Regions from separate parts of the Homo sapiens genome. Here region 1 is linked to region 2. The links come from fine-mapping of genetic effects on gene expression. Tissue or cell type: blood mononuclear cells. Region 2 holds a variant in brackets; the other region holds the start of a gene. All regions are shown on one strand. Distances are between the middles of the regions.

The links. PIP is the estimated chance that this variant, and not a neighbour inherited with it, causes the effect.
Region 1: FRAT1 starts here. The variant in region 2 is fine-mapped to the expression of FRAT1 in blood mononuclear cells (TOPMed, PIP 0.97).

Annotation. Positions count from the first base shown.
Region 1 is chr10:97,315,842-97,323,942 of GRCh38, reverse strand. It overlaps FRAT1 (FRAT regulator of Wnt signaling pathway 1), which reads right to left and starts at 4,672. Exons shown (of 1, transcript NM_005479.4): 1 at 2,028-4,672. The coding sequence starts at 4,489. The coding sequence ends at 3,650. RefSeq lists enhancers at 3,288-3,447, 4,537-4,831, 4,569-5,358 and silencers at 3,788-3,887, 4,388-4,697.
Region 2 is chr10:97,385,672-97,393,772 of GRCh38, reverse strand. RRP12 (ribosomal RNA processing 12 homolog) reads left to right here. Exons shown (of 34, transcript NM_015179.4): 4 at 13-89; 5 at 2,929-3,034; 6 at 3,234-3,350; 7 at 5,149-5,284; 8 at 5,394-5,521; 9 at 7,780-7,878. It also overlaps the pseudogene RPL34P20. Among named protein-coding and RNA genes, the nearest start is that of RRP12, 12 kb to the left of the region's middle. The variant A/G (reference allele first, on the strand shown) is at 4,734.

The DNA.
Region 1 (8,101 bases), 70 kb after region 2:
TCTGTCTCAAAAATAAATAAGTAAATAAGATAAAAAATAAAAACACAGATGAACGGTTACTGGATTATAATGTGTTTAGAGTGCTAACTTGCTTTATGTAGAGAGGCTTTAGTTTTTCCCAATTTTCCTTTTTTAGGAGTGGGTTGTTCTGCATGGGCCCTAAGGTTGAGTCTGAACTTAACCAGTCATTCTTATTACAAGAAGCTATGCACAGTCGGTGCAGTGACATCAAATCATAGCCTATTTCAGGATGGAAAGCCCTGGATTGCTCATAACCCCTTGACCTTGGATAAATCGTACATCAACTAAGAATGGGAACTGGGGACTTCAGGGCTACTCCCATGCCAGGGGACATCAGCACCTGGCCACTTTCCCCTCATGCTCAGCGCCCAGAGGTGGTGCCCACTACACTATTGGGGGCTCCTTTTCCTCAGTTTGTATTAGAGCCTCCATAGTTACCCTTCCCATGCTGGAGAACACTGGACTGAGGCCCCCACAGCCCTTTCTGGGCATGTTGTGGGAAATGGCAGGCTTGGTGTGTTCTGAAGGTACTCCTCAGAGACCATCAGCGTCTGTGTGTGAATTTGAGAAAATGGGGCATTGAACCAAAAAGGAAGTTAGAAAATCAGGACTCGAAGTCATAGAACACTCCAGAAAGCAGATTTGGGATCATGGCATGCTCTTGTTTTGTGGGAAAATGAGGACACCTGGGACACCGCCACCTGGGAAGGAAGGGGTAGGGACTAGATACTGTTCATCTGCAGCATGTGCCAGTCACCATATGCCTTTTATTAATTTATTTTTTTGAGGCAGGGTCTTGCTCTGCCACCCAGGTGGGAGTGCAGTAGCTCAATCATGGCTTACGACAGCCTCAAACTCCTAGGCTCAAGCAATCCTCTTGCCTCATTTATTTATTTATTTTATTTTATCTTATTTGAGACAGAGTCTCGCTCTGTCGCCCAGGCTGGAGTGCAGTGGCGCGATCTCAGCTCACTGCAACCTCTGCCTCCCAGGTTCAAGCGATTCTCCTGCCTCAGCCTCCTGAGTACCTGGGATTATGGGCATGCACCACCATGCCCAGTTAATTTTTGTATTTTTAGTAGAGATGGGGTTTCACCATGTTGGTCAGGCTGGTCTTGAACTCCTGACCTCGTGATCAGCCCTTCTTGGCCTCCCAAAGTGCTGGGATTGCAGGCATGAGCCACTGTGCCCGGCCATTTATCTATTTATTTTTGGAGAGGTGAGGTCTCACTATGTTGCCCTGGCTGGTCTTGAACTTCTGGGCTCCAGCAATCCTCCACTTTAGCCTCCCAAAGTGCTACTAGGATTACAGGTGTAAACTACTGGGCCTGGCCCACCTTTTATTTCATTATCCCTGTTGTACGGATGAGGAAACTGAAGCCACAGAGGTAGAGCAACTTGTCCAAGGTTCCCTTCCCACTTCAGAAGTGGGCTTAAACTCTGGGTACTCTTTCCTCAGAGGGAGGAAATTAGCTCCTTCCATGAGGGAACAGACTGAAGTAAGTCAGAACCATAAGGATAGACATGGCCTGTTATGTCACTGCTTAGGGACAGAATGGTATAAATGTGCCAGGGGCAAAGACAGGAGTCTTTTGTAAGTTTCCACCCAGCTTTCCTACCACCAGGCTCACATTGTGAGCAGTCTCCTAATCAAGAGCTGCCCCAGCCTTAAGGCCCACCTTGTGGAACAAGTGCACTTAATGGCCACGGTGAGAAAGAAGAAAAAAAGAAAAAGAAAAAAAAAAAGATAAGCCTCCCAGTTTGCAGTGACTGGCTGATCTGATGTCCTTTGCTAATAGAGGCAGCTTTATAACACATCTCCATCACTGACTAGTAATCCAAAAGGCTCTGAGGTTTTAACGAATGGGATTGGTCCAAAACCTGACCTCACTTTCATTTAATTTCATGCCAGCTCCAATACACACCCAGCTGCGGAGACCTTGTCTAGCTAGTGAGCTGCTCAGACACAAAGGCGCTCTAATTACCATCCACAAGCCAGGCTGACAGAGATTTCAAGTGTTTTCATGTTTATGGAGATCAGAGAAATGTGTTCTGTACATCTTTTTCACTGATGGCAAGTATAAAATAAAACCAAACAAAAAACCCAACACATTTATTCAAAGCAGGCATTTCAGTTAAGTTAAAATCCTATAATCAGGATAGCCACAATTCCAGACACTCCGGTGCGAAGTGTAGATATGTCAGTAGCCACATCTGGATGATGAACAAGCCATTGACTATAAAAACGAGAACAACAGCACAGTCTCAGCGCCTTTAGAGTGAGTGAACAGTATGTTCCAAGCACTTCACCATGGTTCACAATGGCAAAGCCTGCAGCTTCTCCATTTGGAGGGTCACATTTTCTACTCGGTTTCCTGCACTTACAAAGGCCAGCTGGCATGGCTGGGGGAGGGGCAGAGGGAGGAAATCAACTCGTCTATCCAGGGAATTGCAGCTGTTATTGCAAATGGCCCCGGAGAGCCCATTATAAGCTGCTGTGCTAGGCTGTGTGTCCCTGGAGTGTCCATCACATGGCGTCTCCCTAGCCCCCAACCCAGGCCCCCAGGATCCCAGAGCCACCCGCTTGAGTAGGACTGCAGAGCCGAGTAGGAGAGGAGGAACCCAGGGCCCGGTCTCGGGAGTTTCCGTGAAAGCCCGGAGCGCGGCCAGGGGCGGTGGTCGCCTACCGAAGCACAGCCGCCCAGCACGTCCGCGCTTTCCCACACCCGCGGTGGCGGCGACGCGCGTGTCCTCAGGAGACTCCAGCACTTGCAAAACACTGCGCTCTTCTCCGAGCACCGGCAGAACCTGGCTACTCTGTCCCGCAACCCAGTGCGTGCCCAGGAAACAGTGACCTTGAACCGAGGAGAGGCGGGCCGGCTCTGAAAATACACTTTAGACAGGGCGTGGGGTTCACTCCGCGCCTCTCTACCCTTCCACCACCATTCAATACTCCCCGCCCCCACCTCCTTTCCCCACCCGTGTCGTACAGCCTTCCCCCACCACTCTGAGAAGAGAGACAGTTGCAAAGAGAGCGCAGGGGTTAACTCCTATTCAACCCCCAAAGGGTCCCTTCATGGCACCGCATGTTTGGTATTAAGCAGCACCTCCAAAGACACAAGATGGTTTTTTTAAGTCTGGCAGATTGGGCTGCACCCTGAAATTATCTACTCATGTTCTCCTCCCCCAAAGTGGATCAGGAGCCAGCCCTGAAAAGGTAAAGCAAGTAACTGGCATCATCCTCCGTGGTTCCGGCGCACCGCGATCCGGAGAAGCGTGGATTGTGGCCACATGGTCGCGGGGCTGGAGGGCACTGAGAGGCTGCGAGGAAATGCAGGCTCCGCGGCCAGGTCGGGTCACGCCAAATAAGGAGTCCTACTGACTTGTACGTTTGAGGTGCGCTCTGTAAAATCTGCCTTAAATAGGGCCAAAGTCCTTCATTCCAAATATTTTGGCCCTCAACCCCAGTTACCCGCGAAACACTCGCGATTTTTCGGTTCCTCGTCATTAGCTTTTTACTCTCGCTTCCAAAAGCCAGAGTTCTCCACCAGCCTGAGTAGAACTGCAGCCCTCAAGGGAACCCCTTGCCCTCCAGTCTGAGGCTGGCGCTGTGGCCACCCCGGGCGTGTTAGCTGCCAGGCACAAGAACGCCGTCGCCAGTTCTGAGCTGCGCCCTCCCGGAGGCGCCAGGGTCACTGCAGGCCGCGCGAGGGCTGCGAGGCGAAGGGGGTTCATGCACCGGGGCCGACAGAGGTCCCAGGAGCGGGCGTTGGGGAAGCTTTGCACGTAACTGCAGCCGTCGCGAATGAAGCCTTCGCACGGCCTCCTTGATGAGGTTTCCAGAGAGCACTAGCTGCTGCAGAAGCCGGTGCGGGTCGTCGTCGCCTGTGCGGGTTTCTGGTTGGGACCCGCGTCGCTGCTGCAGGCGGCGGGAGGCGGCGGCGCCCCGGAGCCATCCTCGCCGGCACGGACCCGACAGCGGCTGCGGGATGCCCTGCTTGCCAGCTCCCGGAGGCCCATCAAGGTCGGCCTGAGGGGGCAGTGGGGACAGCGCGCTGGGGCCTGTGGCGAGCTCGGCCACGCAGTAGGGCGCAGCGCGGCCCCGCACGCGGCCGCGGTCCCCCAGGGCGCAGCGCAGGACCCCAGGGGGCGCCGGGCCCACAGTCTCCGCCAACGCGGGCGGCAGCAGCAGCGGCACCGCCGGGGACCTGGCCTTGTCCGCCGGCACCGCCGCAGCCAGGGGCCCCGGGGCCCGCAGCGGCGCCCCCGGGGGCCCGCACGGCGAGGCCGGGCTGTGCTGCGCCGCGTCCAGCTGCAGCGTCTCGCCGATCTGGGCCACCAGCCGGTCCACCTCGCCCGAGCTGCCCAGCGCCACTGACTGCTGCAGTAGGAGGAAGCTGTCCTCCTCCTCTTCCTCCCCCTCCGCCTCCTCGCCGGCTTCCTCTTCCTCCTCCCTCCGGCACGGCATGGCCCCCTGTCTGGGCACCCGGAGCTGTGCGGGCGTCGCTGGGGGCTCGGCTGCCGGCGGGCGCGGTGGGCCGCGGCGGAGCGGGCGCGGAGCTGAAGACTAAGTCTGGACCGGGGCCGGGGCGGACGCGGAAGCCGGAGCCCGCCAGGCACTCTAGCCGCGCGCCTGCAGCCGCGGGAGCCGGAATCCTGCCGGCTCGGGTTGATTTGTAAACAATGGGTGACGTCACGTCGGGCCCTACCACCGCGCCGGGGAGGGGGTGCTGTGCCGCTGGGGGACGGCGCTTCTGTGGGATTGGGGGTCTGGGTGAAGCCGGACTGCCTTCTGAGCTCCTTCGCTCAGGGTGCTGTCTGCAAGGGCGCCCTGGGGACCTGATCCTGGCTCCCGCAGTCGGGCGCGATTGGCATTTCCAGAAATGGGCACCAGCGTGAACCCTGTTGGTTTCTTCCACACACAAGCAAGCACGCACACTAACACACACCCACCCACCCACACACCCCTTCTCTCCGTGCGTCAACTCAACCGGTTTTTAGCGTTTGCGCTTTTGAGGTCCGGCATGCGGGCGTCTGGTGAGGATGGAAAGGAAAGGGAGTCAGGCTAGGGATTTGTACGGAGATTAGGGAAATGAAGCTGACGGGAATGGAAAGGAAGAAGGGGACCTTGTCGTTCGATGGAGGTGGCAGAGTTGGAAATGGCAAAGAAAGGCCACAGATTAATGTTTTTTGATCGAGATCCTGGGCGGATGGGGGCCTGGACTGGGGTTGGCATTGCTGGAGAGGAGGTTGCTAGTCTTTTTGTTTATTTGTTTGTTTGTTTTTTTGAGACGGAGTCTCGCTCTATCGCCCAGGCTGGAGTGCAGTGGCTCGATCTCCACTCACTACAACCTCCGCCTCCTGCGTTTAAGCAATTCTCCTGCCTCAGCCTTCCGAGTAGCTGGGATTACAGGCGCCCACCACCACGCCCGGCTAATTTTTGTATTTTTAGTAGAGACGGGGTTTCACCATGTTGGCCAGGCTGGTCTCGAACTCCTGACCTCAGGTGATCCACCCGCCTCAGCCTCCCAAAGTGCTGGGATTACAGGCGTGAGCCACTGCGCCCGGCCTAGGTTGCTACTCTTTTTGTTTTGTTTTGTTTTTTTGAGACAGAGTTTCGCTCTTGTTGCCCAGGCTGGAGTACAATGGCGCAATCTCCGCTCACCACAACTTCCGCCTCCTGGGTTCAAGCAGTTCTCCTGCCTCAGCCTCCCGAGTTGCTGGGATTACAGGCATGCGCCGCCATGCCCAGCCTAATTTTGTGTTTTTAGCAGAGATGGGGTTTCTCCATATTGGTCAGGCTGGTCTGGTACTCCCGACCTCAGGTGATCCACCTGCCTCGGCCTCCCAAAATCCTGGGATTACAAGCGTGAGCCACCACGCCTGGCTATAGGTTGTTAGTCTTAAGAGGGGCTATGTCCAGAAAGTTGTTTAAAAAAAAGCCTCAGACCAGTAGGGGGGATGGGCTCTGAGGAGGTACGTAGTAGCAGAGAAAAATACCTGTTTGGATGAAAATGGAGATACGCTTCCTTCCTTCCTTTCTTCCTTTTCTTTCTCTTTCTTTTCTTTCTTTGACAGAATTTCACTCTGTCACCCAGGCTGGAGTGCAGTGGTGTGATCTGGCTGATTGCAGCCTTGACTTCCCAGGATCAGGTGATCCTCCCACCTCAGCCTCCCGAGTAGCTGGGACAATAGGCACGCGCCACTACACCTGGCTAATTTTTGTATTTTTAGTGGATACAGGGTTTCGCCATGTTGGCCCGTCCGGTCTCAAACTCCTGGACTCAAGCAATCCCTCCTCCCGAAATGCTGGCGTTACAGACATGAGCCACCGCGCCCAGCCTGGAAGCAACTTTAAAATTCTGAGCATGATATAGAAAATAGGATACAAAGAAAGAAATGAGCCTGGAGATCCAGATAAATAGAAAACGAGGGTCTTGTTGGGCAGTTCCAACGATAATAATTATAGGAGCAAACCTTTAGGAAGGGATGAGTGCAGGAAAGAGGTAGGGAAGTTGGTTTAAAAAGAGTTGGGTTTGTTTTTGTCAAGTGTGGAGGAAAAAATGTAAAAACAGAGGAAGAGACAGTTTAAACAAAGCCATTGGATTTCTAATCTACGAAATCTGGATTTCTACAGGGTGTCATAAGGTTCATCACCTTGTTTTTGTGGATTCCTTAGGATTTTCTATATAGAAGATCGTGTCATCTACAAATAGAGATAGTTTTGCTTCTCTTCTTTTTCTTTTTTCTTTTCTTTTTTTCTTTTTTTTTTTTTTTGAGACAGGGTCTCATTCTGTGGCCCAGGCTGGAGTGCAGTGGCATGATCTCTGCTCACTGCAGCCTTGACTTCCCCAGGCTCAGTTGATCCTCCTATCTCAGCCTCCTGAGTAGCTGGGACTACAGGTGCAAGCCACCATGCCTGGCTAATTTTTGTATTTTTTGTAGACCCAGGGGGTCTCACCATGTTGCTCGGGCAGGTCTTGAACTCCTGAGCTCAAACGATCCGCCCACCCCAGCTTCCTAAAGTGCTAAGATTACAGGCATGAGCCACAGCACCTGGCCCTGTCTTATTCCTGATCTTAGATGAAAACATTCAGTCTTTCACAACATTAGGTAGGATGTTAGCTGTGGATTTTTCATAGATAGTATTTATCAGGTTAAGAATGTTCCCTTCTATTCCTGGTTTGTTGGGCATTTGTTGTTGTTGTTGTTGTTGTTGTTATTGTTGTTGTGATGGAGTCTTGCTCTGTTGTCCAGGCTGGAGTGCAGTGGCACAATCTTCGCTCACTGCAACCTCTGCCTCCCGGGTTCAAGCAGTTCTCCTGCCTCAGCCTGCTAAGTAGCTGACACTGCAGGCGTGCACCACCATGCCTGGCTAATTTTTGTATTTTTAGTAGAGATGGGGTTTCACCATGTTGGCCAGGCTGGTCTTGAACTCCTGACTTCAGGTGATCCGCCTGCCTCGACCTCCCAAAGTGCTGGGATTTACAGGCATGAGCCACCAGACCCGGCCTACTTAAAATTTTCAAATGAAAATAATTAGTAGCAGTTTACAATTTGTGCATTTTTATCTTTGGCTCACAACTTATAAGCCTCATATATTGTTGTGGGCATGAAAAATGGTACAACCACCTTGGAAAAAGGCCTGACAGTTTCTTATAAAATGAAACATACACCTGTCCTGGAACACAGTTTCAATCCTGGATACTTAGCTAAGAGAAATAAACACATGGGCCCACATCAAGGCCTACAGGGAGGTGATCATAGCATATTTTTTTTTCTTTTTAATTGAGACAGGGTCTCCCTCTTTTGCCCAGGCTGGAGTGCAGTGGCACGATGTTGGCTCACATCAAAGGAGTTTTATTCATAAAAGCCAAAAGTGAAATGGCCCAAGTGTTCATCAACAGGTGAATGGACAAACAACCTATTGTACATTCACACAGGATGATGACAGAAAACAGTTCAGCAACAGAAAGGACTGAATATTGCTGCATGCAGTAACATGAATGAAGCTTAAAAACAGTATGCTAAGTGAAAGAAGCCAGATAAAAACGGATATATGTCATATGTTTCTGTTTAT
Region 2 (8,101 bases):
TCTGGCCCTCAGATGACAACAATGGAAGCAGTGGAGTCCCCGGAGTCCCTGGCCGCCGTTGCTTACCTGCTGAACCTTGTCCTGAAGCGGTGAGTTCTGCCTCCTGTTTGAACCCCAAGGCTTTTTGTGGAGGGGAGAAGGGAATGTGGACAGGAGAAACAGGATCAGGGAATTGTTATTTAAAAAGATACTTGCTCTTCATGAACATTGTCTAGAGGCATGCAGAATGGGCCAGCATGTGACATACCGTCGTAGGCCTCTAGTGAGAAACTCTAACTAAACTAGGCTGTCCTGAACCCCTGGTAATAGAATCATTTACCTTTATGCCAAGAAGGTTGGGAAAGCACCAAAATCTTCACGTGGTGTGTGTCCAGGCAGACATTCAGGAGCTCGTGCTGTGAGATCTAAAGTTGTTATTTGATAGTCCAAAACAAAAGGCATGTCTATAGGGCCTGCAGTGCTTCCCTGGTTCCATGTGTGCTCAGTGTGTTCATGACAGAATCAAGTGTGCTTTCCTTATTGAGGAGCAGAAAATCATTGTGAAAGTGTTGAAGGCAAAAGCAGAGTCAGAAAGCTCTATTGAAAATGAAACTTTTTTGGCCTGGTGCGGTGGTTCACACCTATAATCCCAGCACTTTGGGTGGCCGAGGCAGGCAGATCAAGAGGTCAGGAGATCGAGACCATCCTGGCCAACATGGTGAAACCCCGCCTCTACTAAAAATATAAAAATTAGCTGGGTAGGCTACATGCTGTGGCTCACGCCTGTAATCCCAGCACTTTGGGAGGCTGAGGTGGGCAGATCGCCTGTAATCCCAGCACTTTGGGAGGCTGAGGTGGGCAGATCACCTGAGGTCAGGAGTTCGAGACCAAACTGGCCAACATGGTGAAACCCCGTCCCTACTAAAAACACAAAAATTAGCTGGGCATGGTGGCAGGTGCCTGTAATTCAGCTACTCGGGAGGCTGAGGCAGGAGAATTGCTTGAACCCAGTAGGCAGAGGTAGCAGTGAGCTGAGATCATGCCATTGCACTTACAGCCCTGTCAACAGTGCAAGACTCCGTCTCAAAAAAAAAAAAATAGAAAGAAAATGAAATTTGTTTTGAGTAATAAAAATTAAAAGTCATGGCTGGACGCAGTGGCTCATACCTGTAATCCCAGCACTTTTGGAGGCTGAGGCAGGAGGATTGCTTGCGGCCAGGAGTTGGAGACCAGCCTGGCCAACATGGTGAAACCCGATCTCTACTAAAAATACAAAATTAGCCAGGTGTAGTGGTACATGCCTGTAATCCCAGCTACTTGGGAGGCTGAGGCAGGAGAATCACTTGAACACAGAATGTGGAGGTTGCATTGAGCCAAGATCAAGCCACTGCAGTCCAGCCTGGGCAACAGAGTGAGACTCCATCTCAATAAATAAATAAGTAATAAAGTAAAAAATAAAAAACCTTGATTCTTTAAGATGAAAAAGTTCTTGAGATTGGTTGCACAACAATGTGAGTATACTTGGCTGGGTGTGGTGACACATACCTATAATCCCAGCACTTTGGGAGGCTGAGGCAGGTGGACTGTTGAGCCCAGGAGTTCGAAACCAGCCTGGGCAACATGGCAAAACCTTGTCTCTACAAAAAAATACAAAAATGAGCTAGGCGTGGTGGCATGCACCTGTAGTCCCAACTACTTGGGAGGTAGAGGTTGCAGTGAGCCTAATTGTGCCACTACACTCCAGCTTGGGTGACGAGTGAGACCCTGTCTCCAAAAAAAGAAAAAAAAAAAACCCACAACATGAATATACTTAACAGTACTGAATGATATACCGAAAAATATCGTTGAAATGGTGTGTTGTTTTTTTCCTTTTTGAGACAGAGTCTCGCTCTGTTGCCCAGGCTGGAGTGCAGTGGCGCCACCTCCTCCCACTGCAACTCCACCTCCTGGGTTCACACCGTTCTCGTGCCTCAGCCTGTCAAGTAGCTGGGACTACAGGCGCCCGCCACCACGTCTGGCTAATTGTTTGTATTTTTAGTAGAGACCGGGTTTCACTGTGTTAGCCAGGATGGTCTCGATCTCCTGACCTCATGATCCACCCGCCTCGGCCTCCCAAACTGCTGGGATTACAGGCGTGAGCCACTGCGTCCGGCCGAAATGATGTTTTATCTTATGTGTATTTTACCACAATTAGAAATTTATTTATTTATTTATTTATTTTTGAGACAGAGTTTCGCTCTTGTTGCCCAGGCTAGAGTGCAATGGTGCAATCTCAGCTCACCACACCCTCCACCTCCCGGGTTCAAGTGATTCTCCTGCCTTGGCCTCCCAAGTAGCTGGGATTACAGGCGGGCGCCATCACGCCCAGCTAATTTTGTATTTTTAGTAGATACAGGGTTTCTCCATGTTTGTCAGGCTGGTCTCAAACTCCCGACCTCAGGTTATCTGCCCACCTTGGCCTCCCATAGTGCTGGGATTACAGGCGTGAGCCACCATGCCTGGCCAGAAATTTTAAAATACAATTTAAAAGATACTTGTATATCAGGTGGCATTCTACAACATAAGGTCCTGGGTGACTGGGTCATTATACCAGGGAGTGTGAGTGTTGGCCCCCAGAAGGGGCATTCCTGGAGCAGTGAGTGGCAGAAGGGAGGGAAGGAGTAGTTGGCCCCAGGCTTTCTGGAGATGTGAACTGCCAGGGGAGGTGGAGAGAGGATTGGTGTCCTGAGTTTAGGAGTGGGTAGTGGGAAGGTGAGAGAGGCAGGGATCCCGGGTGGAAAGCACACTGAGCTGGCTGATAAGGTGGGTGCCTATTCTGACTTTGTTGCTCACTTTCTGAGTGACTGTGCCACCAGCGCCCCTTGCCCTGTCCTCCTTAGTACCACGAGGGGCTGCACCAGCTGCTCTTCAGGGACCCTCTGGGGTGACCATCTCTGTTCTTTCCCACAGTGTTCCCAGCCCTGTGCTTATTAAGAAGTTCTCTGATACCTCCAAAGCCTTCATGGATATCATGTCAGCTCAGGCCAGCAGCGGCTCCACCTCTGTCCTCCGATGGGTTAGTGTCTGGGGTTTAGTTTCTCATCTGGCGACTCCCAGAGCCTGTCTGATTTGGTGATGCTTAGATGTTCCCTGAGAGGGGTTTAGGCACCCTGGGGACCTCAGACAGATGCGATTTTCTGGAGTCAGTGAGAACCTGGGCTCTTTTCCCTCCTGGCCGAGGCTGGTGGCACTGAGGGACTCTGACTTTCTTCCAGGTCCTTTCCTGCCTGGCCACCCTTCTGCGGAAGCAAGACCTGGAGGCCTGGGGCTACCCCGTGACCCTTCAGGTGTACCATGGGCTGCTGAGCTTCACGGTGCATCCCAAGCCCAAGGTGAGACTACTAGCTCCCTAGAAAATGGGGCAAGGGGACAGCCACCACTCAGCCCAGTGCAGCCCAGACTTGGCTAGCTGAGTGGCACTGGGGAGCTTGCCCTGAGTACTGGCTTCTGCTTTCTGCTTCTGAGGCACCATGCATTTAGATGCAGAAGGCAGGGCGGCTCTTCCTCCTCCAGGAGGCTGTTCCCTGTCAGCCCTATCTGAGTCTCTGGTGCCTCATCAGCCATTGCCCTGTTGACGTGGACTCTCCCCATATGTCTATTTACCTCGGCAGGGAGGGTGGCATAGTTGGGGGAGTCACACAGACCTGAGTTGGATCCTGAATTCACTGCTCGAGGTGTGACCTTGGGCAAGTTACTTAATCTCTCTGAGCCTCAACTTCCTGACTATGAAATAGAGATAATTGGCTGAATGTGGTGGCTCACGCCTGTAATCCCAGCACTTTGGGAGGCCAAAGTGGGAGGATCATTTGAGGTCGGGAGTTTGAAACCAGCCTGGCCAACATAGTGAAACCTCGACTCTACTAAAAATATAAAAATTAGCCAGGTGTGGTGGTGGGTGCTTGTAATCCCAGCTACTCGGGAGGCTGAGGCAGGAGAATCGCTTGAACCCAGCAGGCAGAGGTTGCAGTGAGCCAAGATTGCACCACTGCACTCCAGCCTGGGCAACAGAACGAGACTCCATCTCAAAAGAAAAAAAAAGAAATAGAGATAATCACACCTACTTTGCTACAGAGTTGTGGGGAGACTCCAGTGTTCCCCACAGGCCTGGCGCACCTCCTGGCTCACGGCAGGTGCTTGGTGAGTGATGGTTCCCCACTGTTTCCTCTGGAAATTTAGGGCAGGAGGTGGTAACAATAACAGTCATGTAATCACTCCCAGTGCTAAGCACCGTCAGCCCAGATGGTCTCATGCCCCCTTCCCTCGGTGCTCACATGATCTTTTCCTCACCTTCAGCTCTCGCTGCAGTGGCACTTCACTGCGGTGACACTTTCCTGACCACTGTATAAAAAGTAGCAGCCCCTTGGCTGGGCGCGGTGGCTCACGGCTGTAATCCCAGCACTTTGGGAGGCCGAGGCGGGCGGATCACGAGGTCAGGAGATCGAGACCATCCTGGCTAACATAGTGAAACCCCGTCTCTACTAAAAATACAAAAAATTAGCCGGGTGTGGTGGCGGGCGCCTGTAGTCCCAGCTGCTCGGGAGGCGGAGGCAGGAGAATGGCGTGAACCTGGGAGGCGGAGCTTGCAGTGAGCCGAGATCCGCCACTGCACTCCGCCTGGGCTACAGAGCAAGACTCTGTCTCAAACAAACAACAACAACAAAAGTAGCAGCCCCTGCTTGGTTATCTGCAAAGTACTTTTTAACCTTCTGTTATGT[A/G]TTTGTTTTCTGCCTCCCAGCTGGAAGGGGAGTTGCCTGCTGTTCAGTGCCAGTTTGCCAGGACCTAGAACAGTGCCTGGCTTGGTGGACACACAGTGTTTGCCGGATGATTAAGTGAATGAAGAAACCCCTGTTTTCAAGATGATATTGAAACTCAGAAATTAAGTAGTTGGGCTTGCTTAAGGCCATTTGGTGAGTTAGTTGTAGAGCAGGGATTTGAACTGAGGTTTGTCTTGCTTCACAGCTCAGGATTCTGTACACATGAAGGCCCTGGTGTAGCACTGGATCTATAGTAGTCAGATCATCATTGGATCTATATTTCAGCCAAAGCTAATTGGTTGGTGCTTGTGCCGGACACCCAAGATGCTGGTGGAACGCTGATCTGGCCTTGTCTCCTGCTCTCCTTGCCCCTCAGATCCGGAAGGCTGCCCAGCATGGAGTATGCTCAGTCCTCAAGGGCAGTGAATTCATGTTTGAAAAGGCCCCTGCCCATCATCCTGCTGCCATTTCCACTGCCAAGTTCTGCATCCAGGAGATTGAGAAGTCTGGAGGTGGGGAACCCAAATGGAGGGCAGGTGGATGGGAGGCAGTGGCTGGCAGAGCAGGACAGGGCCTGCGGTAGGGCGGGGCTGGTGTCTCAATTCCTCTTCTGTATACCAGGCTCCAAGGAGGCCACCACCACGCTGCACATGCTGACGCTGCTGAAGGACCTGCTGCCCTGCTTCCCGGAAGGCCTGGTGAAGAGCTGCAGTGAGACTCTCCTCAGGGTCATGACCTTGAGCCATGTGGTGAGCTCAGGCCCAAAAGCTGGAGAAAGGGGGACCTGCAGTGGTGGCATTTGGGGAACTCACTGGTCAGTCAAAATGCAGGGCCTGGGGTCTCCCTCCCTGACTGTGTTCTTAAGCTAAAACCAACAGCACTACGTTACTCTGTGGTGTTTGGCTAGGCCAGGCCATATCAGAGTCCCCTTCCAGATGGAAGCTGACCTCAGAGATCAGGTCAGAGTCAGGGTGGATCTGTAGTGGGCTGGTAAACCCTCCTTCTGCACCAGCTCTATGTACCCTATACCAATTTTTTTTTTTTTTTTTTTTTTTTTTTGAGACCGAGTTTTGCTCTTGTTGCACAGCTGGAGTGCAATGGCGCGATCTTGGCTCACTGCAACCTCTGGCTCCCGGGTTCAAGCGATTCTTCTGCCTCAGCCTCCCAAGTAGCTGGGATTACAGGCATGCACCACCACGCCCAGCTAATTTTTTGTATTTTTAGTAGAGATGGGGTTTCTCCATGTTGATCAGGCTGGTCTTGAACTCCCAACCTCAGGTGATCTGCCCGCCTCAACCTCCCAAAGTTCTGGGATTACAGGCGTGAGCCACTGCGCCCGGTCGAGTTTTTTTTTTTTAGCAGCTTTAAAGACACATGAAAAATGATTTCCTGTGTTTCTACCATTTCTAGCACAATTCTGTAAATCTTTATACAGTCAGCTCTTTGTATGTGTGGTTCCCACAGCCATAAATTCAACCAACCTTGGATTGAAAATATTTGGAAACTGGGCATGGCTGCACGCGCCTATAATCCCAGATGCTTGGGAGGTGGAAGTGGGAGGATTGCTTGAGCCCAGGAGGTTGAGGCTGTAGTGAGCCATGGTCATGCCACTGCACTCCAACTTGGGCAACAGAGCAAGAACCCCATGTCAAAAAAAAAAAAAAAGGAAAAAGAAAAAAAAGGAAAGAAAAAGAAAAGAAAATATTCAGGAAAAAGAAAATGGTTGGTTGCTTCTGTACTGAACATGTACAGTTTTTTTTCCTTGTCATTATTCCTTAGACAACAGAGTGTAGCAACTATTTACATAGCATTTATATTGTATTACGTATTATAAGTAATCCAGGTGATTTAAAGTGTATGGGAGGATGCGTGTAGGTTATATGGAAATACTACACCATTTAATATAGAGACTTGAGCATTGGTAGATTTTTATGTCCATGGGGGGTCCTGGAACCAATCCCCCACAGATACCCCCGCCAACTCACTGTGTGTTCTCTCTCTTTTTTTTTTTGTGATGGAGTCTCGCTCTGTCACCCAGGCTGGAGTGCAGTGGCGTGGTCTCGGCTCACTGCAAACTCCGCCTTCCGGGTTCACGCCATTCTCCTGCCTCAGCCTCCCGAGTAGCTGGGACTACAGGCGCCCGCCACCACACCTGACTAGTTTTTTGTATTTTTAGTAGACACGGGGTTTCACCGTGTTAGCCAGGATGCTCTCGATCTCCTGGCCTCGTGATCCACTCACCTCGGCCTCCCAAAGTGCTGGGATTACAGATGTGAGCCTCTGCACCCGGCCTTGTATATTCTCTTGTAGTGTTTATTTACATACATATTTTTAAAATTGTAAAATATAAATAATATGATCATTGTTTAAAAGGGAAAAACAATTCAGAAGTGTATAAAGTAAAAATCTCCTTCCCTCCAAATCCTGTTTCCTAAGGTAGACAGTGCAAATAACTTTCTGGGTATCCTTTCAGACATTTTCTCTTTGGATAAACAAATATACATGATAAAACATGTAAAGGCCAGGTGCAGTGGCTCACACCTGTAACCTTAGCACTTGGGAGGCTAAGGCAGGAGGCAAGGAATTTGAGACCAGCTTGGGCAACATAGTGAGACGAGACTCTGTCTTTATAAAAATTAAAAAATTGGCCAGGCACAGTGGCATGCACCTGTATTGGTCTCACCCCTGTATCCAGCAACGGAGCAAGATTCTGTCTCAAAAAAAAAAAAAAAAAAAATACAGCTGTAACAGACCGTTTATAGCCTGCTTTTTTGGCTGTTATGTTAAAACCATTTTGTTAATGTTTCTATCTTTGTTTAAGACATTTAAAGCTTTTTCAGTGGCTTCCATGTCTTACTAAGGTGGCAGTCCTCAGGGTGTCTCTGTGTGGGGGGCATGTGTGAGGTTCAGGGGGCCCTCAACTCCCTAGCACACAGGTGGAGTTGAGGGGTCCAGGGCCAGCCGTGGGCTTTGTAGTTCCTTTCTAAGCCTGTGTGTCCCCCTCCAGCTGGTGACAGCCTGTGCCATGCAGGCCTTTCACAGCCTCTTCCACGCCAGGCCTGGCCTGAGCACCCTGTCAGCAGAGCTCAACGCCCAGATCATCACGGTGAGGCCTGTTGGTGGGATGTGGGGGCATTAGGTCGGGGGTGGTGCCTTGGGAGGCTGTGCTGGGGGCACTGGCCCTGCGCCTTGTCTACAGAGTGAGGTTGGCTGGGCTGGGTTGTCCTAGTGGAAGAGGCCAGTAGAAGGGGAAGGAAGATTGGAGACCAGCCATCAAATTCACATCAGTGTCCCCAGGAGCTGGGACCTTGACCCTTGACCTAGTTAAC